Homo sapiens: one gene and its partners. The protein of the gene in region 1 purifies or fractionates together with the protein of each later gene. This does not show direct contact. Each region holds a gene or a part of one and is shown on either strand. Other genes may lie near its edges.

Evidence for each region.
Region 2: the proteins of LYPD6 (region 1) and SLC47A1 purify together in Homo sapiens (affinity purification with mass spectrometry; 3 studies listed by BioGRID and IntAct, with this or other methods). This does not show direct contact.
Region 3: the proteins of LYPD6 (region 1) and SOAT1 purify together in Homo sapiens (affinity purification with mass spectrometry; 3 studies listed by BioGRID and IntAct, with this or other methods). This does not show direct contact.
Region 4: the proteins of LYPD6 (region 1) and MINPP1 purify together in Homo sapiens (affinity purification with mass spectrometry; 3 studies listed by BioGRID and IntAct, with this or other methods). This does not show direct contact.

What each region holds. Positions count from the first base shown.
Region 1 is NC_000002.12:149,466,557-149,473,592, reverse strand, and holds part of LYPD6 (ly6/PLAUR domain-containing protein 6 precursor), read right to left. Parts: intron 4,949-7,036; coding exon 4,818-4,948; intron 2,911-4,817; coding exon 2,743-2,910; 3' UTR 1-2,742.
Region 2 is NC_000017.11:19,529,435-19,536,858, forward strand, and holds the start of SLC47A1 (multidrug and toxin extrusion protein 1), read left to right. Parts: upstream 1-4,419; 5' UTR 4,420-4,505; coding exon 4,506-4,640; intron 4,641-7,424.
Region 3 is NC_000001.11:179,345,773-179,352,808, forward strand, and holds part of SOAT1 (sterol O-acyltransferase 1), read left to right. Parts: intron 1-1,827; coding exon 1,828-1,925; intron 1,926-3,071; coding exon 3,072-3,170; intron 3,171-4,523; coding exon 4,524-4,659; intron 4,660-5,544; coding exon 5,545-5,690; intron 5,691-7,036.
Region 4 is NC_000010.11:87,549,870-87,553,974, reverse strand, and holds the end of MINPP1 (multiple inositol polyphosphate phosphatase 1 isoform 1 precursor), read right to left. Parts: intron 1,894-4,105; coding exon 1,497-1,893; 3' UTR 514-1,496; downstream 1-513. UniProt on the Homo sapiens protein: Multiple inositol polyphosphate phosphatase that hydrolyzes 1D-myo-inositol 1,3,4,5,6-pentakisphosphate (InsP5[2OH]) and 1D-myo-inositol hexakisphosphate (InsP6) to a range of less phosphorylated inositol phosphates.

The DNA of each region.
Region 1 (7,036 bases):
ACTGTACAATATTTACAAAGTTTAGGCATTAATCCCATATTGACATGAATGCTGTGGAGAGTCTAAAAATAAATATGTGGCACATAGCTTAATATACACATCATGGCTCTTTACACTTAAGCCATTACCAATATTGAGATGTAATGGAGAATTTAATGTGGTAGAAAAGTCAGAGTGGCTGACCAGTCCCGGACCTTCCATGTGAATGACTCTTCCTTGGCTCCTTGAGGCTGGGGATAGTGAGCAAATAACTTTCTTTCAAGAGAATTAAACACTGCCATTCTGACAGGCACATGGGACACATGCAGCAACATCTATGCAGAGTCTGCAAGCACTCCCTGGGTGGTGGTTGAATCTGCACCACTGTGGACCTGATCCCTCTACACCAGCCAGGGAGGCTTTGGTGTGGTCACTTTCTTGTTTCTTATTCAATCACATGCAGTACTTGGAAGATGTCAGTGGAGTGTAATCATGCACAAAAATGGTACTTGTAGGTATGTACAACATCAAACTTTCATTGTCTTATAGCATCTTTAGATGCAACATCAACTATCTCCTCTTTTAGCAAGAGGGATGAATGAGGAAGCCAAACCCCTACTCCCCAAAGAAAAAACATCACCTGGGGACACATGCAAATAGCATCCTGCAACAGCAGGGTGAGATAAACTCCACATGATAAGATGGATGAATTCCTATGAAGTCAGGCCTGAAAGTCTTCCTAGGGGGATAATCCCACCTTTCTTTCCTCTTCAATCCCACATCATCCCACATAACCTAAATCTGAAGGAAACAGCTTCACAACATTGCGTTTGAGCTTTGGTACCTTCATTTGGGAAGTGTAAATGCTAGTAACATTCTTTATAGGATTCTTGCAGGGATTAATCCTAACTTATGTAAAGTGCTTAGCATAGTGCCTGGCACATACGAGGTGCTTAATAAATGTCTTGCTTTCTCTCCCTCTACTTTCCCACCCCAATTAAAAGCAACATACTGATAAGCCTAACAAACTCTGAATTAAGGCCATTTGATGCAATTTAGATTATTCTGTATCAGAGTTACTGCTGTCAGTTCATATTTAGTCCCTGAGGGAGTCTCATTTTATGAGCCAGAGACATTTTTCTATGGAGGGCAGATGGACCCTGACAACACTGTCCTCTTTATTAGCCATGGTTCTACCAAGTTTCACAAAAACACATCTGAAAACCCTGCACACAAACTTAGACCAGTGATGGTCACCACCTGAATAATTCCAGGACACCATCACTGAGGAAACCATGGAAAAATCCTTGAGACAAACATATTGCTCTTGCCTACATGTTAACTTTTTTCAACACTGGTGCAAGTATTATAGATAACTTTCAATAAACATATATTAAAAGCTCTACCACTGTTGAAAAATATGTATTCTAATTTGATCACTTTGTTCAGAATAATGAATTTTTTAGAATATATTTTAGTTTCTAGTTATGCCTTACAAAAATAAATACTGTTTAAATTATTTACAAGGAAGAAGAAAAATTGTAACTTGGGGTACAAAAAATACAAGAAGGATGACAAAAATTTTACCATCTACTTCAAAAGCAATATCTAAAAGAAAGAAAAACTTCCCATTGAGTCTCCTTGTTAGTCTTGCAATCACCTCACTGGTCTACTTTCTCCTCATCATCGCATATTATGCCTTGCTTCCCCATCATTCGAAAGACAATTTAATGCAGAATCTTCTCCATAAAGTCACTGGGGATTTGGAAGTGGGAGCTCTTTGGCAGTATGAACTGCAGATGGAGTAAGAAGCTGGCTGAGCCACTTAGTCGGCCCTCAGAATGAACTAGGACTAATCTCCACACATTTTTCCTTTCATTCTGAAATCCTCTGTCTAGATTATCTATGGCTGAATAGAACCCCATATCTGGGGAAAACAACTCCATCCTGGTTTGGGGCTCTGGACACAATTGACTCAGGTGGAATCTAGGATCTCATGAAGCATAATTAGGTGCCAAGTCAAGGAGAAGGCTGATCTCACCAATTATATGAAGGGATAACAGCCACTTTATGGACAGTGGCTCCATTAAGTTGAGGAAAATCCTCCTCCAGGCACCCCCACAAATATAACAAACTTTTATGATTGCCTTTTTGTCTTCTGCACAGAACAGAGGAAATGTGATTCCCAGCACTGGGAGAAGAATGTTGGGAAAATTAATTGAACAAATGGCTGGAATTGTTGGAATTACTACTCTTCCAGGGACTCAGTCAGAATTTCCAAGGAAATAGTCCATTCAGTTTGGAGTCAATGTTTTAAAATTCTAAAGCTACAAATGAACTCATGATTATATTTAAACCAATGGTTACTTTTCTCCTGAAAAGCCCACATCTATACATGCCCCTATAACATACTCCTAATATCTTACAGTCTCAGGACCTACTGCATCTCATGCATGTATTCTTCCAAATTAAGAACCCCAGATCTCGATAAATGCAGAACTACTTCTTGGAATGAAAACAAACGTTTATGGTATGGAACTTGGGCTGTACTGACAGAAGGCTTTGATGAGTCTCGGTTAGACTCAAAATGGCTACAATGAAGCAACATTTATTCCTCATGGTAAGTGGCAATGCTTGGCTGTGATGACCTCCAAGAGTGTTGTGTCTCACATGTGTAATTACTGTCAGGCCAATGACTCATGCAGGTCTGTGGACCATCGAGATCCCCATGGATCGCTATTAACACATGGAGCCACTGAGCCACTATAACATGAGCCCTAACCACAACCACAAGCAGGACACTATCACTGACATACAGCGTGGGTGCCCATTTGTCTGATTTATAGGTGACGTCGTGGCAAATGTGGCATCAGTTTCATTTCGGGGCAGTGGCAAGTTACAGATATTTCCTTCACAACAAGAAGTGCAGACCTGAAAGAAAGGAAGAAAAAAAGATAATGAGAAGCCAGCATGTCTTGGAAGGAGGCAGGGTTTTTGAAGGCACTGTCGCCCACATGGCAAGATGCAAGTAAAAATTACCTAATCTATAAAGGAGATGCCAACTCTACGTTCAGGAAGGCTGGGGATAATATTTCTTCTAGAAGCAATCTGGTCAACATGAAAACTCCCCAGGCCAAACTTCAAGAGAGCTAGGTTTTGTTTTTGACACCCTCCACCCATACGATTCTTACAAAGGTGTATAGCCTTCCTGGGCCTCAGTTCTTTCGCCCTTAAAATGGGAATAAAGAAACTCGTCCGTGTTTTTCCATGAGGCTCTTTCTGACTACTTGAGGAAGAGAGGGTAAGCCTTCGTTTGCCAAGTTTTCAAGTGAGAGTCAAGTGGCAACAACCCGGGTGGTTTAAACTTGAGTACTGACTTTCACAGAACTGTTTGCATAAGTGTCTCCATTCTCATTGGGTGAGTTAATGTTTGAAGGGTTTTCATTCATGCAGTTACTCCTGCTTTACACCACCTTACTCGTGGATCATTAGAAAGAAATAAACCCACAGAGTTAGTGACAAAAACTTTCTTGGGGCATGGCTACACAAAGTACAGACCAGCAGCTCCAACATCAGCTGGGAGTTTGTTACAAGTGCAGAATCTCAAACCTTGCCCCAGACAAAGAATTAGGACTACATTTTAACAAGATTCCCAGGTGATTCCTAGTCATAGGATGGTTATTAATAACATTCTATACAGTCATTTTCCTGCAGGGATTTGAGTCTTTAGTCACAGTGACACGTGCCAGGAAGTCAGTATAATGTTGCGGAGGTAGACTCCAAACCAGAGGTGAGTTGGAATTCTGTGCCTGTCACTTACCAGCTGTGTGACCGAGCATATGACCCAATTTCTCTAATCCTTAACTTTCTCCTTGGTAAAGAGGCCACAGTAACTCCTCAGAATCAAGTCCAATTTGCTGGAGAGGTCAGGGAAAGCCTTTGGTTTTACTCATTTTGAACCAGGAGCAGAATAGGCAGATTATATTTAAAATTTTAATTATTAGTGTATTCAAGAGGTTGCTTGAAAATTAGGTGTCTGCCTTCTTAAGAAACAGTGCTGTTCCCAGGTATTGAGAATGGACATTGCCCAAACCACCAGGAAGGCCACCTGCAGAAGTGTTCAGCTGCTAAATAAAGGCCAAAGTATGCTATGTTAAGGTCACACGTATAGACAGCATATAGACATGTATAGACACACGTATAGAGGGCAAGGCTGCCTTTCTGTGATTGTCCATATGCCCCTTCAAGGCTGCCTCCCAAGCTCATTTTACACTGAGTGCTTCTGTACATAGGCACCATGTGTTTCCGTATACAGGCTTCTACAGGTACCAGGTGAAGCTTAAGCGAACACACAAGATGGGTCTCCATCACCTATCAAATGACTCAAGAGCCAATGGAGACCCTCCCCAAACTAACATCCCAGTCACAACATGAGCCCTACTTTACAGAAAGTTATCAAAGCTGAATTGCGTCGGTCCTCCTGTGATGAATGAACTGGGTACATCTGCAAAGCTTCACTGTGATGGACATAACTGGTCTCTTGCTCCTCTTTTTTCTGGTAGCTTTATTACTTTCCTCTGAGTGAAGAAAGTTATTACAATAACACTGAACACCCTCTTCATGTGTGTTTACACAATTTATATCAGTTGTCCTATGCTCTGGTATAAATGTGTATTCTTTTAGAGTAAACAGGAAAGGAAGCGTCTTTTCATAGAGCATAAAGACAATCAAAAGACAGCCTTCACGGGGGAGTAAGAATCTGCTCATGAGTACTGGCAGATGTCTGAAGAGAAGGCAGCTGGCTATGTAGTACTGGTCACTTGCTCTGTTGCCCAGACCTTGTGGCCTTCATGCTCGGAGTCTCTGCAGCCAGTGGATAAGCACTCTTCCAGTGGGACACAGCGTTTGGTGACTGAGATACTGTTTCCTGTGACTTCCATTGTGTGCTGAGTGTAGCAGTATCTGGTCTCTGTCAACAGAGAAAATATATTTGAGATGGGAAATGTTGACCAAACCTGCCTAAAAGGAAAATAACAGGAGTGTCAGCATTATCATTCCAGAAAAGAGCTAATAGCACATAAGATGTGCACTGCTTTGAGTTTATGTCCAACCCCAAAGACCTCTTTGGAGAGCTCCACTTTGCCATGGTAGGAGGACAACCTTCAAAGAATATTGATTTCTCTGCCCAGCATTATTCCCATAAACCAAGACACAATGGTTTCTCCTTGCCTTTCAACAAATTTTGCCACTGGACTGATTTTTATTTTTAGGGGATGAGTGGTTTTGCGGGGATGATTTAAGAGGTATAAGTCATAGCAATTTTAAGGAAGATGAAAGGACAAAGAGGTTCAAAGAACTCAGGGTTAAAATGAGTTAGGCAGGTAACAGTAGTCCTCAAGGAGATAAAACACTACAGCAGTGGCTGGTGTGTGTGTGTGTGTGTGTGTGTGTGTGTGTGTGTGTGTGTGTGTGTGTGTGTGTTGGGGGGAAGCAGCTATTCACAAGAGCAGAACAATTTAAAACTTTGTGCCAATGAGCATAGCTGGGTCCAGGGTGCATTACAGACGAAGACTGAAACAATAATGAACATTTTTCCAAAATTGAGGAGCTTCGTTTCTCCCTAGCATGATTTCAGTGTCTTCCTAGGACAACAGATGAAGACCATGATGGGAGTTTCCAGAGGTCCCTCTATGTCTAATGAATCTGAAAGCTTGAGATCTCTTCCAAAATTCTTTGGGGGAACTTTTAATGTGTAATTTAAAAACTAAAGAAAAATGGCTTTGTCAATGTAATTCTTTATGGCCTCCAGGCAATGTTCAGCTCTCTAAGTCTGGGATTTAGGAGAATGTTCTTGCTCTACTTTCACATTAAAAAAGAAAATGAATAATTCTTAAGAAATGTCACCGAGCTGTTTTTCATCCACATCTTGGATCCAACTTTGCATGCTTTATACATTTCAGATATTTAGTGGCTAATATGGAATTATGACCTTCTATGAGATTATTTATTAGGCAATACAAATTCCTCCCCTCTCCCCCACCAGATTCTGTCATGATTTTGGCAGCTTTTAACTGAAGAACTAATGTCCAAAGAAGAAAGCGTAAGAAAATTTTAGGTCTTGAGAATGAGCTAATACAGACCCTTCAACACATCCTGGAAGTCATCAAAACTCAGGGGTTTTAACAGTCTTCCTAGAGACCCTCACCTGACAGGAATCCCAAATGGTCTCCAATTAAGTCGTACTAAGAGCTGCCACTTTCCCAGTGGTGATGCTATTGGCAGGTGTGCCTGGGCAGAGTCTGTGGCAACACCCTCCCCTAAATGCTGTCCCACACTGCATCCCGGCTGGAATTGTTAGTTGGATTGGGCTGAAGCTTGCTCCAAGGTTGCCCAGGGTCCTATGGAGCTCTTTGGGAGTAGGGTAAGGTCATCTGGGGAGCTCACAATAAGAATAGTTGAAAGTTTTCTACCTGGCAATAATTATCCCAAAGCCCTAAACTATCTTAACATTGGAGTGATTGCTTTTCTGTTGAAGAAGAGGCAGCAGCTCTCCTCTTTTTTAAGCCTTAACAGGTTTTGACAAATGGAGGCCAGTGGCCTGGGAGATTTACCACATCTTCTAAGAGGACTGGTTTACTTCTTTGGTATCAGACTCGATGGACGTTTATGGTCACAATAGGTTCATCTTTCCCACCCCCACCCCAACTTCAAATGTTCTAGAAAGCAATAAAATCAGGAATGTTCTTATCTCCTGTCTCCTCTTCATGCAGACAGCTAAGAGCAGCTGCCAGAGGTTTTACTGCTCCAAATGTAAATCCGAGCAGATAAGATCATAGGCTTATGGAATGAGTAAATCACTACATAGCTGCAGTTTTGGAAATCAGCCTTTTCCCCCAAGTAGTGAATTATCCTGTTTTAAGTAAGCCTTAAAATAACAATTGGTGAACTTGATATGACTACTTCTTTGTTCATACTTTTCTATCTTTAACAAAATATCTTATACATAATGGAGAGCGTATTCCATTGAATGACAGTAGACGCAACAACTGATAAAAAT
Region 2 (7,424 bases), on another chromosome or scaffold:
GGATCTTAAGATGCAAAGGTTATCCTGGGTTATCGGGTGGGCCTAATGGAATCTCTTTTTCTGAGAGGAAGACAAGAGAGTAAAAGCTGGAAAAAGGAGACGTGATGAAAGAACAGAGGCTGCAGTGATGTGCTTTGGAGATGGAGGAAGAGGGAGGCGGCATCTAGAAGCAGGAACAGGCAAGGGAATGGATTCTTCCTGAGCCCTAGCAAGAACGCAGCTCTGCTGACACCTTGATTTCAGCCTCACGGAACCCATTTCAGGCTTCTGACCTCTGTTAAATAGTAACTTTGTGTTATCATAAGCTATTAAATTTGTGGTAATTTGTTACAGCAGCAATCAATAAACACTTATCATGAATGACCAAAATTAATTCAAGAAGAGGTTAAACAAAACCCTGAATAGACCAGCAACTTCTAAATAAACAGAAAACCTTTTATTTTTTTTCTTATTTTTAAATAAAATACCCCTTCTATAAAGGCATCAGATGGTCCTCTAGGTGAGTGGCCTTCAAACCTTCAAGAAACAGATCATTCTTATGGTATTTGAATAATTACAGAGCCTAAAGATTCACGGAAGCCAGGCGCAGCAGCTCACGCCTGTAATCCCAGCACTTTGGGAGGCCAAGGCAGGAGGACTGCTTGAGCCTAGGATTTCAAGACCAGCCTGGGCAACATAGTGAGACCCCTGTCTGTATAAAAATAAATAAATATAAAAATCCTGAATATAATATTAGCAATAAATCTACCACTATATACCTGTTATAGTATACTATTATGAATAAGGGAAGTTTATTCCAGGAATCAGTGACAGCTAAACATTAGGAAATCTACAATGAACTTACACTAACAACCGAAAAGAGAAGAAAAATTTGATTATTTCAATTAATACTAAATATATATATATATATATAGAGCACAGTGGCTCATGCCTGTAATCCCAGCACTCTTGGAGGCCAAGGCAGGAGGATCACTTTGAGCTCAGGAGTTTGAGACCAGCCTAGGCAATATAGTGAGACCTCTTTGTCTCTATAAAAAATATGAAAATAGGCTGGGCATGGTGCCTCATGCCTGTAATCCCAGCACTTTGGGAGGCCAAGGCAGGTGGATTACCTGAGGTTGAGACCAGCCTGACCAACAAGGAGAAACCCCAACTCTACTAAAAAAAAAAAAATTCAAAATTAGTCGGGTGTGGTGGCACATGCCTGTAATCCCAGCTACTCGGGAGGCTGAGGCAGGTGAGTTGCTTGAACCCAGGAGGCAGAGGTTGCGGTGAGCCAAGATCGCACAATTGCACTCCAGCCTGGACAACAAGAGTGAAACTCTGTCTCAAAAAAAAAAAAAAAAAAAAAAAGGAACAAGAAAACAAAATTAGCCGGGTGTGGTGGCACATGCCTGTAGTCCCAGCTCTTCAGGAGGCTAAGGTGGGAGAATTGCTTGAGCCAGGGAGGTCGAAGCTGCTTTGAGCCGAGATCAAACCATTGCATTCCAGTCCAGGCGACAGAGAGAGACCCTGTCCCCCCGAAAAGAAAAAAAAAAAACCCTGATAAAATTCAATTTTAATACATGCTTTTAATAATATATTTCAGCAAGTTAAGAACCGTATATGAACATACTTATGACTATTTATCAAGCATCAATAACAAATTCATCATATCCCTAGTCCAGTGAGTCTCCCATTCCCTAGATGAGTACTGATTAGACTAGGGATATGATTGAAATAGAAGACAGAATTTTAACGAGGTGCATTCTTTCTGAATAAATCTGCAGATATAATGCAATGTCAATCAAAATCCTAACACTTTCCAAGTAACAGGGTTCTTTGTTCTTTTAATTGTTTTGTTTTTTGTTTTTTATTGAGATAGGGTCTCACTCTGCTGCCCAGGCTGGAGTGCTGTAGTGCAATCATAGCTCACTGCAGCCTCAAACTGCGGGGCTCAGTCGATCCTGTCACCTCAGCCTCCCAAAGTGCTGGGGCTACAGGTGTGGGCTACTCACCTGTACAATGTGCTCAGCCAACCACACGTTGTTTTAAAAGCTATTTACCAGCCAATAGAGCTACTTCTTTCCTCCTTACTTTTCTTTTTCAGAGTTTTTGTTATATCTTTTCCTGTTTACACTATCAATTGCTTTTAGAATCATTCTATTAAATTTTAAAATAATGGAATACACAGTAGTGGACTAAAACCTAATATATTAATTGAAAATTAATTTTCCTGTGCTACTTTTTGGAAGGAAGTCACTGTGTACAATCCACCTTTAAGGAGTGAGGAGTTATGCTCTGTATCACGAGGACCTTTTGTTTTTTGTTGCTATTGTGAAAGATTTCTTTTAGTATTTTCATATATGTTATTACCAATATAAAGGACTGATATGACTTGTTGAAGAACTTCTATGTAGCAACTTTATTAAACCCCTTTATCAATTCTATTAGCTTTTGTTCATATTTTATTTCTTTGGGTTGTGTGGATTTTTTTTAAGAGATGGGGTCTCACTGTGTTGCCCAGGCTGGTCTCAAAACTCCTGGGTTCCAGTGATCCTCCCACCTCGGCCTTCCAAAGTGTTGGGATTATAGGCATGAGCCACTGTGCCTGGCCCGGTCTGTCAATTTCTACTGTGAGTAATCCCTTTGCCTTTTCTTTCCTAACATTATACATTACATTTCCATTTCCTGTCTTATTACATCAGTCAGGACTTCCAGAAAATTATCAAAAAACAGCAGTGATCAGAGATCTAGTGAATATCCTCGGGTATTTGTCTGTTGACACTCTCAGTTCTTTTGGGAAACTGCGCTACTCCATATGTACAGTCCTTGTGGGACGAGACCAGTCACAGGGCACCTAACCCTAACCCTGTAGGTTCAAAGCTGGGTGCATGGTCCAGGGCCAGCCAAACATCAGACCCTATTTTCCCACCCAGGGCGATTGTTCCAGAGGTGGGCAAGAAACCTAAGCAGGGCCAACCAGATTTTCTCCCAGTTTTTTGTTTGTTAGTTTGGAACCAGAAGAGAGGAGGGGAGGGCCTTACTTTCTGGTTTAACAGACGGGAAAGATAGGAACGAGGGTATCAGAGGCCACCACTGTCACTTGCACAGGAAGAGAAAGGCTGCCGGCAGAGGAGGAAGAGAAACTACGGAAAGAATCCCAAGGGGCGAGGAGAAGGGAGGAGAGGGACAGAGATGGGAAGAGGGACAACAAGAATGATCTGGTTTTGTTTTTTTTTTTTTTTTGAGTGGAGTCTCCCTCTGCCACCAGGCTGGAGTGCAGTGGCGAGATCTCGGCTCACTGCAACCTCTGCCTCCCGGGTTCAAGCAATTCTCCTGCCTCAGCCTCCCTAGTAGCTGGGATTATGGCGCGCGCCACCATGCACAGCTAATTTTCGGTACAGACGGTGTTTCACCATGTTGGCCAGGATGGTCTCGATCTCTTGACCTTGTGATCCGCCCGCCTAGGCCTCCCAAAGTGCTGGGATTACAGGCGTGAGCCACCGCGCCTGGCCTAATGACCTTGTTTTCAAATCCCTGAATCCAAACTTCCTGATTATGTGAGCCAAAAAATTTGTTTTCCATTTTCTCTACTTACATTGGATCATTACAACGGAAGGAATTTTGACTATTAGAGAAATCAATCTTGTCCTGGTAACTGACACTTATTAGGTAACGGCTGGTGCCAGGCTGAGGGCAGGTGGCACTGACTCCGGTCCTCCGCCCAGGCAACCCCAGTCTTCACAGCTGGCGACGAGTGTTCTTTCACGTTTGCAGATGAGGAAGCTGAGGCTCTGGGAGGAAAGCGCGCTGCTCCTGCCCTTCTGGGCCGCAGCCTCTCGTACTCCCACAGCAGGCTTGATGGATAAACTTCCAACACGACCAGCTGGCACAAACTGTGCTACTTGGCAAATGGGAGCATGTTGCTCTATCCTGGTAGATTCTAAGTTCTCTAATGGAACAACTGATGAGAGGAGAGGAGTATGCAACACCCTAACCAGCATCAAAGGGTGTACCCAACTCAATCTGCACAGCAAATGCGCCCAACCCCACACACCCCGCGGGGTGCTAACCGAGTCACGGCTCGAGGCCTCTGGGTCCTTCCACGCCAGGTCATTCAGAACCTGAAACCCCCAGCGGAGGTGGAGAGCCGGGGTGAGTCCTGGCGTCCGAGACGTGGAGGACCCAGCCCCCGGAGCGCGTTCCGTTAGTTTACAGAGCTTTTTCAAACTTTGCCTTCCAAGTGCAGGAGTTCCTTGGTCTTTGCAAGACCCGCAGGCGTCCGCAGTGGTGCAGAGAGAGGTGCAAGGGGCGCGCCCAAGGTCGCAGGCTGCCTGGCTGCGCGCTCAGTCGGGCCCCCGGGCGCCAGGCGCGGGGCGGGCTCTGGGCGGGCGGCCGGGGCGGGGACTGCAGAGCAGGCTGCACTGCGCGGTACCCACTGCCGGCCTGCGCGGTACTCACTGCCGGCCTCCGCGGTACCCACTGCCGGCCTCCGCGCTACCCGGCCGCAGCGCGCGAGTCACATGGAAGCTCCTGAGGAGCCCGCGCCAGTGCGCGGAGGCCCGGAGGCCACCCTTGAGGTCCGTGGGTCGCGCTGCTTGCGGCTGTCCGCCTTCCGAGAAGAGCTGCGGGCGCTCTTGGTCCTGGCTGGCCCCGCGGTGAGTAAGGTGGCCTCAGTGGCAGGCCGGTACCGGCGGGCTGGGGACCTGGTGATTTCTGCCTCCGCGGGTGACTTTGGCGGGCTTTGGGGACCGAGCGAGCTGTCCGCCGGCGGGCTCCGGGGAGCATCGTGCCAGGAGCCGGGCGGGCACCCCAGCTCCTCTGCCTGCGTCCCGGCCGCTTTCCGCTCCGCACCACCCGACTGGGGGCCCCGCGGGGCACTGCGGGAACGGCTGGTACGCGCCCGGGCGCATGTTGGCTCGGAGAGGCCGGCGGCTCCAGCCTCCTGCGCCAGGAGACACCGGAGAGCTGGGACCTTTGCCCCTAACGGGGCTCTACCAGGTCCAGGCTGCATTTGCATCCGGGGGTGCCTTCTCTGGGAGCTGATTCCGGCCAATAAAACGCAAGTTGCCTGAACTTCAAAACACAAGGGAACTTGTTTCTTTGAAAAGTAGCGGTCAAAAGTTCGGGAGCTCTGCGATCTAAATAATCCCGAGGCACGGAGGAGGGGGTGCGTGGTCTGTCGTGGACTCAGAGCTGCGAAATGATTTCTTCAGAATTCAGTCAACCTCTACCGAGGAAACCAGAGGCATCCTGTACCACCCCCTCCCCGCCAGTAATTATGTATGTGAAAGAAAAAAGGGGTTTTAATGTGGTTCTTTGTGGGGTCGAGGTGTTCTTATCTGTGGGATTCTTTTCTTTTTAATCATTAGGTTAGGGCTGTTTCTGCCTTGTCTCCTAAAAATAATGTGGTTTTAAAAACCACAAAAACACAATCCTATCCACGTTCTCCTGCCAGCTTGGGTGGTTTTCAAACCGAGAGGGTAGGACGCGGCACAAGAAGCAACTGGTATGCACTTAAGGCGTGAATAAGCTTTTGACTTTGAGGCCCACATTCTGCACCTGCGCGGGCTGAGGGGGGCCGCTGTGCCTCTGGAGTGGGGGCTCGGTAGTTTGTGGGATATTGTGGCACCCGCTGTGGTGTGCAGGACAGCAAGGGTAATGCCGAGGTCAAAGCCATGGAATAAGATCCATCAGCCATGCTTTCTCACAGACCAGAAAGAACTCATGATTTGGGGCTGGGCGCGGTGGTTCACGCCTGTAATCCCAGCACTTTGGGAGGCTGAGGCAGATGGATCACTTGAGGTCAGGAGTTCGAGACCAGCCTGGCCAATATGGTGAAACTCCGTCTCTACTAAAAATACAAAAATTAGCCAGACGTGGTGGCGGGCGCCTGTAGTGCCAGCTACTCCAGAGGCTGAGGCACGAGAATCGCTTGAACCTGGGAAGTGGAGGTTACAGTGAGCCAGGATGGTGCCACTGCACTCCAGCCTGAACAACAGAGTAAGACTTGGTCTCAAAAAACAAAACAAAACAAAACAAAAACACCTCATGGCTGGGCGTGGTGGCTCACGTCTGTAATCCCAGCACTTTGGGAGGCCAAGGCAGGCGGATCACGAGGTCAAGAGATTGAGACCATCCTGGCCAACCTGGTGAAACCCCGTCTATACTAAAAATACAAAAAATAAAAAATAAAAATTAGCTGGGCATGGTGGCAGGCGCCTGTAATTCCAGCTACTTGGGAGGCTGAGGCAGGAGAACCGCTTGAACCCGGGAGGCGGAGGTTGCAGTGAGCCCAGATCGCGCCATTGCACTCCAGCCTGGGCAAAAAAACACCTCATGATTTGGAATCTCAAGACCTGGGGCTGCGTGCCCTGCTTTGACCTCCGAAAGTAAGTCAGGAAGCAGCTGTGCAGATTGAAACAGCCTCCTAACCTCTTCTGGTCTCTGCATATTCATTTGTAAAATGGAGATAATAATCATGTCTTGGTTCAACACTCCCTCACAGAGCTGCTGTGAGAAGGGGCTTTCTAAGGCTATTATTGTTTTATTATTATTATTATTTTTTGAGACAGGGTCTTGATCTGTCGGCCAGGCTGGAGTGCAGTGGTGTGATCACAGCTCACTGCAGCCTCAACTTCTGGAGTAGCGGAGATTACAGGCACACACCACCATGCCTGGCTAATTTTTGTATTTTGGGTTAGAGATAGGGTCTCCCTGTGTTGCCCATTGCTTGAATTCCTGGGCTAAAGCAATCCTCCTGCCTCGGCCTCCCAAGAGCTGGGATTATAAGCATAAGCCACCTTGCCCAGCCTGTTATTGCTTTAATAGTATAGCAATAATAATAATAATAATAATAATAATAACAGGGCAGGTTTCTGAAATCCAGCCCTCCCAGTAGCCTGATCCCCTTGATGTGGGGGACCTCTCCAGGTCTCCAGGGATGAGCACTAGACTGACATGCTGGGGACCTCACCTTTTCTCTTTGTATGTACATATATGTATACCATTGTGTTTATTACAAATGTCATGCATATTTACTGTAGAAAAAAATAGAAAACCAAGACCAACAATAGGAAAAAACCCTCTGAAATCTCACCGCTGAGAGGTAATTTGGGAGCTTTCCTTCTAGTCCTTTGTGTGTGTGTGTCTCTGCTTTGTGAAAATGTGATTGTAGAGTTTTGCTACCTGCTTAGTCTCTCATGAAGTGTATGTGGACCGGCCTGGGTCTGTCTCCCATCTCTAATCCCATCTGCTATAAAGTTTTCTGTTTACTAAAGGGCATGGGATAAGGAGAGACCACCCCCTTCTTTTCCCATGCTCATTGTCCAATACTTTCTTCTCCAAGTGTCCAACATAACATGAGGAAGATGCCCTGTCTGGCTCTCCTCTCTGTAATTTTCTCTCTCATTTGCCATCTCCCTTCCAGACCTCTCAAGTTA
Region 3 (7,036 bases), on another chromosome or scaffold:
CTCCTGGGCTCAAGTTATCCTCCTGTCTCAGCCTCTCAAAGTGCTGGGGTTACAGGCTTGAGCCACCATGCTTGGCCTTTTGCCACTATTTCTTATTTTCCTCCTGTCTTTCCGACCATACCTTGATTTCTTAAATATATTTATTGCATTTTTTTGTCTATTATAGAGATATATGAGTACCTAGTACTATGCCAGGTGCAGAGGACTCAGAAGTGAACAAGAGATGTATTATCTTTACAGTCTGGGAGCTTTTATAGTTTCCCTTACTTTTCCTCTTTTCTTTACTCATTGAATGTTGGTAATGTTTTCTGTCATCACCTTCCCTTTCTTTTCTTCTCTTGCATTCCTCTTCCAGTAACCCTCCCTCACCAGCCCCAGGACTTATTTGAATGAACTCTGTATCTGTCCCTAAAATAGAATATGTGTTACATACTTGAGTGTCTTCCTCACTAGCTGCAAAGTTATTGAGTTCAAGGATTGTGTTTTATAGCCAATCACAGTCTCTCTCATATTGTCTGGTACATAGTTGATGCTCTATAAATATATATTTTTCAATAAATGAGTGAAAGAGATGGACATATAAATGGATATTTTACAATATATTGTAATATGTACTACATAAGTAGGATAAACAAAATGCTTATGGCCTTTGTTTCACATTAGAGATAACATTTAATATTGGGTATTGAAAAATAGGTAGGTATTTGCCTGGCAGAGAATTGGTGGAAAGGTCATTCTAGGTAGTGGGATGGATGCAAGGGCATGGAGCATTCTGGAATGGCATAAACCCAGTTGTGGATAATGTTTACAACACTTAGAGGGTAGAATCACTGGAGATATGTTTAGAATGTTATCCATGTCACTATGTTAACCATGTCACTATTAACATTTTGGACTGGTTAATTCTTTGTTTGGAGTGGCATTCTTCTGCATTGTAGCATAAACTGTTCAGCAGCATCCTGGCCTCTAACAACTAGATACCAGTGGCACCACTCCCTCTCCTCCAATTGTCACAGCACTGGTGCAGTAGCTTGCACCGGTAGTCCCAGCTATTCTGGAGGCTGAGGTGGGAGGATCACTTGAGCCCCAGGAGTTGAAGTTCAGCCTGGGCAACATAGTGAAACCCTGTCTTTTAAAAACAAAAAGTCTCTAGAATTTCAAATGTCCTGTGGGGGAGAGGGGGCAAAATCTCTCCCAGTTTTAAACAATTGTTTAAGAGGGGGGTATGGGGGCCAGATTTTTAAAGGACCTTGGGTACTAAGTTAAGCCATATATTTAGGCATTTCTTAAAAACAGACTGGGTAGGCTGGGCGCGATGGCTCACGCCTGTAATCCTAGCACTTCGGGAGGCTGAGGTGGGCAGATCACAAGGTCAGGAGATTGAGACCTGCCTGGCCAACATGGTGAAACCCGGTCTCTACTAAAAATACAAAAAATTAGCCAGATGTGGTGGTACATGCCTGTAGTTCCAGCTACTTGGGAGGCTGAGGCAGGAGAATTGCTTGAACCCTGGAGGCAGAGGTTGCAGTGAGCCGAGATCGCGCCACTGCACTCCAGCCTGGGTGACAGAGCAGGACTCTGTCTCAAAAAAGAAAAAAAAAAACCAGACTGGGTAATGTCATTTGTTGAACCCACTTTGAAGGAAGTTACTGTTTTAAAATTAAGATAATTAACTCCAAAAGTATATCATCTCTGGAATGGGTAAACTGGAATAATAACTTATATTTTACAAAATAATCCCAGCTAAATAAAATGATGTGATATAATTAGTTGCTTGGTATGTGAGCTATTTGGAAAGACTGTTAATATTGTTAATCTTATTTTTAGGTGTGCTGATTCTCTTCCTTACTTTTTTTGCCTTTTTGCACTGCTGGCTCAATGCCTTTGCTGAGATGTTACGCTTTGGTGACAGGATGTTCTATAAGGTAGTATATACTTAGACTTAGCTTTCTTTTTACATTTTATTAACTTCTTCATTATTAGTATTTTGACATTGTTGGCTAATGTCACCAGCCTTTCACACAAACATTGTGAAATAATTTTCTTTTCTACAAGTTTTGCCAGTATTTTCTGAAATTCGGTTACAGATATAACTAGCATAACCTTGTGTTTTCTTCTGTCTCTAATATCTGCTCCCTTAACATAAGCACATGGTTTCTGCTGGATCCTGCAAGGATATATTGGTGATTCCAGTAGGAAACTGTTTGTTCAGAGCACACCATGAGACTTCCCTGAGTGTTCATTCATTTGAAATGGACCGTCTAGTTCTGTAGGAATGACCTCAGCAAATTATTCCATTTAAGACAATTGAGCAGTTCATGAGGGAAATAACTTTTCCCTCTTTAGTTTTGAAAGGTGTTAATTTTGCTTCAGATAGTATCCTTATGCTTCTAAAGTTGGAATTAAGCTATAGAATTAGAGTCAGAATGGCTCATAGCATTCTTTAACCCTACCTAAAGCTCTCTTTGAGTTGTTTTTGGCAACACTCCAAGTCTACCACCTTTTTTCTCAAAGAAACTTTAAGTGTGGATTGCAGATTTTAGATACCTGATTTCATTCATCTGATCTTAATATTGGGAGCAAGAAGCATATATAGGGATACCAGGACTTTGAGGTAGCCACCATCTCACCCTGGATAATTTTGCCATTTATGGTAACCACCAAACAGCTCTCTAGTGTTAGCACTCTCTCTGGTCTTCATGACCATAGAATTTTCTCATGACATTCTAGTAGGGTAAGGGGGGTGGGGCTTACTGATTGCTGTTTAGATGAACATTAGATTTAAATGATTCTATGTGTTCCGTATGAACCTAGGAACTAAATCATATATAGTATGAGAATTCATGTCATATTCAACACTAATAACCAAAATGCCTTTGAAGATTTTTCTGTCACCAGTGTATGAACCAACAGTTTATCACAGTATAATTTGATTTTTCTGTTACATATGTTCTTTGGGAAGTCAGGGGGGTTTGCTTTCGGGTGGGATGTGTGTGTGTGTGTGTGTGTGTGTGTGTGTGTGTGTGTGTGTGTGTGTGTGTGTAGTTTTATACCTTTACTTTTTCCCTCAGGATTGGTGGAACTCCACGTCATACTCCAACTATTATAGAACCTGGAATGTGGTGGTCCATGACTGGCTATATTACTATGCTTACAAGGACTTTCTCTGGGTAAGTAGCAAGGTTTAAGTTGATATTATTTATGAAATGGAGATTCTTTTTCAGAAAGTATGAGTATTATACAGCTGGAAGAAGTTATATTTAATTGCTCATGAGGAAAGGGTGATAGTATCTTTTCAGTTTTCTTTTGAGAAATTTACATCTAGAAACCTGCTTTGAATGGTACTGCTTAGAAACCACTGTGTGTACACTAGTAGGTCTAATACTGTGTCTTTTGCTCTGAATTTTATCTTACATAACAAAGTAAGAATGCATGGAGGTTGTTGGAGTTGAAATGATCCACCAATAATGGATAGTTTCTTATGAGTCTTGTTGCCAACAAATAATCTCCCTTTGGTCTTTTTCATTCGTTTTTCATGGTTAAAGGTAGAGAAACACTTTTTTTTTTTTTTTTTGAGAGAGTTTCGCTCTTGTTGCCCAGGCTGGAGTGCAGTGGCATGTTGTCGGCTCACTGCAACCTCCTCCTCCCGGGTTCAAGCGATTCTCCTGCCTCAGCCTCCCAAGTAGCTGGGATTACAGGCATGCACCACCACGCCCAGCTAATTTTCTATTTTTAGTAGAGATGGTGTTTCTCCATGTTGGTCAGGCTCATCTTGAACTCCCGACCTTAGGTGATCCGCCCGCCTCAGCCTCCCAAAGTGCTGGGATTACAAGCATGAGCCACCGTGCCCGGGTGAGAAACACTTTTCTGTGAGAAACACTTTTGTGTGGATTTTGTATCTCTCCAATCAGTGACACCTGGCTTTGAGACATTCTTTAGAGCAGAATATACTTAGACTGATGAGATGTAATCTTGAATCTCCTGGTTGATAAACAGGTATCTAGATTACAGTTTTTATTAAGTGAGGGCACCATTTGGCTTAGTGACAGCATCTTATGGTGGAAATAGCATTGTATTAATATTTGAGTGCTAATTCTGTCATTCAAGTGTAGTTTCACATACGGATAAGGCAAGTCCCTTTTCTCCTTCTGAAATCTTAGTTTTGTTATGTGTAAAAATGGAGAGGACAGTTGCCCCATCTACCATACAGTGTTACTCTAAAGACTGAAATTCAATATGTTTCATTTATATAGGAAAACTATGTTTTGTCAGTTGTAATAACTTACAAACATAAGTTATTGATATTTTTGAAAATAGACTCAGATATTTGAACAATAATAAGAGTTTGTAAGTGTATATGATTTGTAGTTATTTTAATAGACTTGGATTAATCCAAGGAGTAGACTTAGAAAATTAAGTACAAATACAATAGGTGCCTTTGGCATATAATTTTACATCCTATATAATCCATGCTTGCTTTAAATTTTTAAAAATTACTTTGTAGTGTTTTCCTTTTTCTTTAGTTTTTCTCCAAGAGATTCAAATCTGCTGCCATGTTAGCTGTCTTTGCTGTATCTGCTGTAGTACACGAATATGCCTTGGCTGTTTGCTTGAGCTTTTTCTATCCCGTGCTCTTCGTGCTCTTCATGTTCTTTGGAAGTAAGTATCTTGGTATGCTGTGAGTACTGGGTACTATGCTAAAAAAGAAAACCAGATAGAAAGGAAACTATAAAATCAATGTAGGAGAACTAGATAGTAGTAGTAACATTTTAAGGTAGTACTTCTTTATCAGATGGTCAGAATATTGACTTTGAATAATTATACACAGCTCTGTCTCAAGATATTTACACTTTGAAGTAGGGAAATGAACTAGGTAACCTCATGAAGACCATTGATAACACTGATTTGATAGGTCATAAAAGTTATCTATATAAACAGCTTTCCCATTCGTAAACATTGTCGGTATGCACCCCCTAGAAAACTGACAAGTTTTTGAGTGAGTAGAGAGGGAAAAGTTGGAATATGAATATTCTAATTCCATGAAATATATATACACATGTTCTGAAAACACTGATTTCTTGTAAGTTACTGATTTTAACACTGAAGCTTTATTTTTCTTTATAGAAACAGTGACCAGAATAAAAAAATATATAAACAGTTGTTGCTCACTGTGATTATTAAATAACAGCAGATACCTGAGGTCCCTCATCTTCTGATAAATTATGTTTTGATACCTGTATATTTCTTTCTTTTTTTTTTTTTTTTTTTTTTTTTTTTTTTTTTTTTTTGAGACAGAGTTTCACTCCTGTGACCCAGGCTGGAGAGCAGTGGTATGATCTCAGCTCACTGCAACCTCTGCCTCCCTGCTTCAAGTGATTCTCCTGCCTCAGCCTCCCGAGTGGCTGGGATTACAGGCACACACCACCACGCCTGGCTAATTTTTGTATTTTTAATAGAGATGGGGTTTCACCATGTTGGCCAGGCTGGTCTCGAACTTCTGACCTCTGATAACTGTATATTTCTTTGTTGCCTTCCTATTTTTAGTGGCTTTCAACTTCATTGTCAATGATAGTCGGAAAAAGCCGATTTGGAATGTTCTGATGTGGACTTCTCTTTTCTTGGGCAATGGAGTCTTACTCTGCTTTTATTCTCAAGAATGGTATGCACGTCAGCACTGTCCTCTGAAAAATGTGAGTCACCAACCTGGTTGGAGTGCAAAAGAACCTGTTTATTCTCTGTTTGTGAGAGTTGGTGGGCAATGTTGAGGAGCACAGTAGTGGAGATTATGATGAATTAGTGTTAAAGAGAGGGAAATGAGGAGTAAAAGCATTAGTTTATCATCTGATCTTATTGTACTTGAAGTTTTTCCTTTTGTTTAGTTTTCTTCACATTTAACTCTCCTAGCTTTTGGTTTTCTTCTTTTACTGCCTTTTCTTCAGCCCCTTCTAATTTTTTTTTTTTTTTTGAGACAGAGTCTCACTCTGTCGCCCAGGCTGGAGTGCAGTGGTGCAATCTCAGCTCACTGCAACCTCTGCCTCCCGGATTCAAGTGATTCTCCTTCCTCAGCCTCCCGAGTAGCTGGGATTGCAGGAGCATGCCACCATGCCCGCTAAATTTTTGTATTTTTAGTAGAGATGGGGTTTCACCATGTTAGCCAGGATGGTCTTGATCTCCTGACCTCATGATCCGCCCACCTCGGCCTCCCAGAGTGCTGGAGCCACCGTGCTCAGCCAGCCCCTTCTAAGTATTCTCCAGGGTTTTCCTAATGCCATGTATGTCCCTACTACCACCACCTAAAACATACCTTTTTTTTTTTTTAAACCTCTTTCTTCTAAATAAACTCTTGTAAAAATATTGGGCAACACTGAGATCCTTCCATTTCTCTTGATTCTATTTTTGTTTTTGGTAATTCAGGTTTCATTTATTCTTAGGACTTTAGTTTTTAGCTATACATGGGTACAGATTTTAGGAGGATGGCTTTTTTTTTTTTTAAGAATTTTATTTTCAAGTAACACAGTATAGGACATAGGAATTTCCCAGCAAACACTCTGGTTAATTTAATTGATGTGATCTGGTTAATTAGATCTACTAGCACTAGCTGAAAGTACTGCTTATAGTTATGGATAGAATTTCATGATGGAAACACCCTAAGAAGTAGGATTGCCAGGCTTTTTGTGCATATAGGGCGTGTCCTATATTTAACATTTTTGTCCTGCCTCCTGTATTGGGTTTCTTAGAACACCCCAAATGTCCTATATTCTGCTTTTTTCAGTAAATTACAAAAAATATGGCAGATAGAGCTATTTGTCTCAAGTTCATCTCGGCATCCTGTACTTGTATTTGCTAAATTTGGTGGCCCTACTAATAATTCATTCAATCCCTACAACCTTCCAGGTTTGGAGGGGATACCTTCTTGATTTATTTCCTGGGTATTTCTCATAGGCATCTGTAACTGAAGATGTCCATAATGAAATTAATCAGTTTCCTCTCCAAAGCTTCCCCTCTTTCTGTGTACCCTATGTCTGTTAGGCTGCCT
Region 4 (4,105 bases), on another chromosome or scaffold:
TGAGGAAATTTCTATTCAAAGAAAATTGCTTTAAATTGCCAGGTGACAATAGCAAAGACTTGGAACCAACCCAAATGTCCATCAATGATAGACTGGATTAAGAAAATGTGGCACATATACACCATGGAATACTATGCAGCCATAAAAAACGATGAGTTCATGTCCTTTGTAGGGACATGGATGAAGCTGGAAACCATCATTCTCAGCAAACTATCGCAAGAACAAAAAACCAAACACCGCATGTTTTCACTCATAGGTGGGAACTGAACAATGAGAACACTTGGACACAGGAAGGGGAACATCACACATTGGGGCCTGTCGTGGGGTAGGGGGAGGGAGGAGGAATAGCATTAGGAGATATACCTAATGTAAATGACAAGTTAATGGGTGCAACATACCAACATGGTGCATGTATACATATGTAACAAAACTGCATGTTGTGCACATGTACCCTAGAACTTAAAAGTATAACAAAAATAAAAAATAAAAAAAAATTGCCAGGTGAGTCAAATCTGCTTGAATTTCCAAACTTTTACCATCAATTATTGATTGTATTTTGACATGGGGAAGAGAAAAGTCCTGGTAGTAAAGTCACAAGAATTTTCTTTATTATAGCAAATACTTTCACGGCATTTGACAGAACTCAGAACTATTTACAAAGAAAGAAAGAAAAATCAAACAACCAAAAGATACATTTCATATAATAGGAAAATATAAAAATCGAAGCCAAGTGACAGAATGAAAAAGTTAGCTAAGCAATGGATTTGAAAAACTTCGATTCTAACTATCTGACTTGTTGCTAATTGTCCAAACATATAATAATTTAAGATGGTCTTTTGAGACTTCCTAGAAGTAAAAAGGAATTATTGAAAAAATGTTCAAATATTTCATAAATAAATACCAAAAATATTTATTTTCATTGTACTTTCCGACTTGCTTCAGTGAAGGTGTCCTTTTACAACACTCTGTTTCTTGTTTCAAATTCTCATCTGGAGATGTTACTTTCTTCCAGAGTGATACTCCCAGCTTACCACAATATTCCTGATTAAGAAAATGCTAGAGCTGTCCTACCTGAGGAAAAGAAGAGAGAACTGCAGAACAATCTGTAAAGTTCCTAGACAGTTCAATCAAGTTAAGGATGGTCCAACTGAGATATTTTGTTACTCCAGCACTTTTCAAGTGTTATTATGAAATCACAATTCTATCTCAGTGTGAGATTTCTTATATAAGTAGGAAGAATTTCATTTCTGTAAACATTTGCAGGGCCAGCTGTTTCTCTAAATAGATTTGTTTCTCCTTAAGAGAGCTGCTCCAGTGAAAAATCTTTTCTTACATTTCATGTCCAAACCCAGAGAGAAACCCAATGTTTTTCTGTGAAAAGACAGAAATACTCAAGTAATATAAAAGCTTCCTGTAATCAAGGAATTGCCTACCTATTACAAGCATGTAATCACTCATTGCAGATTCCTAAAGAATTAAAAATGTTCTTCAGTTACTCATAGTTCATCAGATGTACTGTTAGCCCTTGCTAATTCACATTCTTCACTGGTTTGACAACTCTGAAGGATGTCCTTGTAGTGGTTCTTCAGATCTTCATAAAATGAAACAGTTTCTTGTGAGTAAGCCAAAGGTAACACCTTTTCATTTAATAACATCTGCACTCGGAATTGTTCTTTAGGAGTCTTAGCATTTTCACAGTGGTAAAGCACAAATATCAGGTTCGAGGCATAAGGTACAATGAGACCACTTCGGAACTTCCGATGCATTTGTTTTTTGTAATTGTACGCTGTTAGGGGTTCCTTGTCTTTGAAGTAGCCCATGAGAGAAAGCAGTGGAAGAAGAGTCTCTGCATGACCAAACTGGAGGATGACTGGAGAAGAAATTGGCTGAGACCTTCAAATAGAAATTAAGAGAAAATAAGGTATATATATTAATGTCATAGAACATAGTATTTACACTTAGGAGTAACTTCCACATCTTTTTTTAGTTTAAATAATCCCATCTATTTTTTTAAATCTTTATATACATTACACAAGCATACGGCTGAAATTCCGTGTGGCAGAGAACTAAACTTTTTATACTGAAAGTTAAGTTCCGAAATTCAGATCACTGTACTGTTGTAAATCCATATAAGTGTGCATACATATTTTCCTTTAAGTTTAAAGAGAGAGAAGTGTCTTATAGATATGGGAACTTGAAACAGATGTGTATTTCAACACTGTATTGCCTTTCTGTGCATAAAACTGAGCAACCTGGCCCTTAGTAAATATTACTCCATGGAGCTCTTTTGAATAAAGTGTTATTATTTTATTTATATCTAGGGAATAAGAACAAGCAATATTCAGTAAATGTCTTACCAAGTCTGAACAGGATTACATGGTAATTCATGTAATCCTTAATGGTTTACAAAACCCAAAAAAGGTTAGTGATGTAACCTATTGTGGCTGAAACAATGTGTCTCTGGTTGGGAGTGGGAGTATAAAGTGCCAGGAATACAAACCACTTTCAACACTGAGCTGAATCAATTCTTTTTCTTGAAGTTTTCTATGATTTTTTTTTTCTGGTAAAGAATTTTTATTAAGAAGCAGTGAATGACTGCTTAGCCTTTTCCCTACCTTTATAGAAAAAATAATATTTTTCTTAAATATAATTTGTAAACCTATTCAAACATGACTGTCTGACTTTTTGCCACCACTCATCAGGTTATCAATTTAGTGCATCTGGATTTTCTGGGAGGATAGAAGCAGCAGTTCTAGACCTTCCTGATTCCCTCTGCCCCCAACACACACAAACACAGCAAGCAGATAGCAAATCCAAAAACCCATGGGAAACATTTACAACATAACTAGGTGGAAAAGTATTCTCTATGAACCACTCCAAGTAGCATCCAACCTCAAGCACTAGATATTATCAGTATCTGTTGAAGAAAGCAGAGAGAAGCCACAGAGCATCTGAGCAATCTGAGAACAAGAGAATCCCAAACAGCCCACAGGTATTCACTGGAAGCGCTGTGTGTGAACTGGATATAGCAGCTGAAATTGGGAAGTATTTAGTCCTCTCCAGGACTTGGTGAGTGCAAGGCAGGCCTACAGTGAGGCCCGGGGCTAGAGAATCCTGGAGCTCCTGTGAACTCTCCAAACACAGGGCTCACACTAGAGAAACTGCTGGGAGTGGAATTTCAGCCAAGCAGGAGAGGGACAGAAGAGATAAAGGAAAAAGTAAGTCTAGATGAAAGTGGGGGGAGGGGAACAGAGCCAGGAAATCTCAGAAAACAACCCATCATACTTCTGAACAGTACACACACCAGAACGGGGGGGCTCTGTGAGATGAGACAAGCAATCTGACACAAACCTTTTTCTAAATGTTCAGGAAAACAATTCATATCAAAATAACTACAGAAAAGCATGTAAGAAAAAATAAGGAGCAGAATAACTTCCATATATAAGAGTACGCTAGAAATATATACTCAAAAAGTACACTGAAACTGTTAACAGTATTTCAAAACAAACTAAAAGACAATTATTCACTACTTTCAGATTAATATTCTCTAAAAGGTGTAAAACTTAAAAGCCATTCATCAACAGGCGCTTACCAAGCCTCTCTTCATAACTGGTATACTTTAATTAGGTCATCTAAAATACCTAAAACCTGTATTTATTTCCAAGAAGCAATCTCTTAGGTCTGAAGTTACCAAGCGGTAGCATTCAGAACACAGCCATATTTAGTTTGACCAGCATAAGTATTTTTAAATTTTACATTACTTATCAGTATTTAAAAATTGAGAGGTTTAAGATTCTTAAAAATCCAGATTTTTGCTCTTCTTAGAAATCTGAAAGATCTGGCAACACAAGTCCATATATACCCGTAAGACCATAATCAGCTAAACAGGAATAAGGTTACCCACCCTGTAGAGAGGGCATATACTTGTTACACAGCACATGTATCATTCCACATTGTCTAACATAGGATGAATTCATTCCTTTGTTACTTGCCTGGCCCCTTTATACATCTGAGTATATTCAAGTCTAAACTAACACTACTGTCACCATCTAAATAATGAAATTTAATAAGGATACAAGTTAAAAGAAAAACAAGTAATATAAAT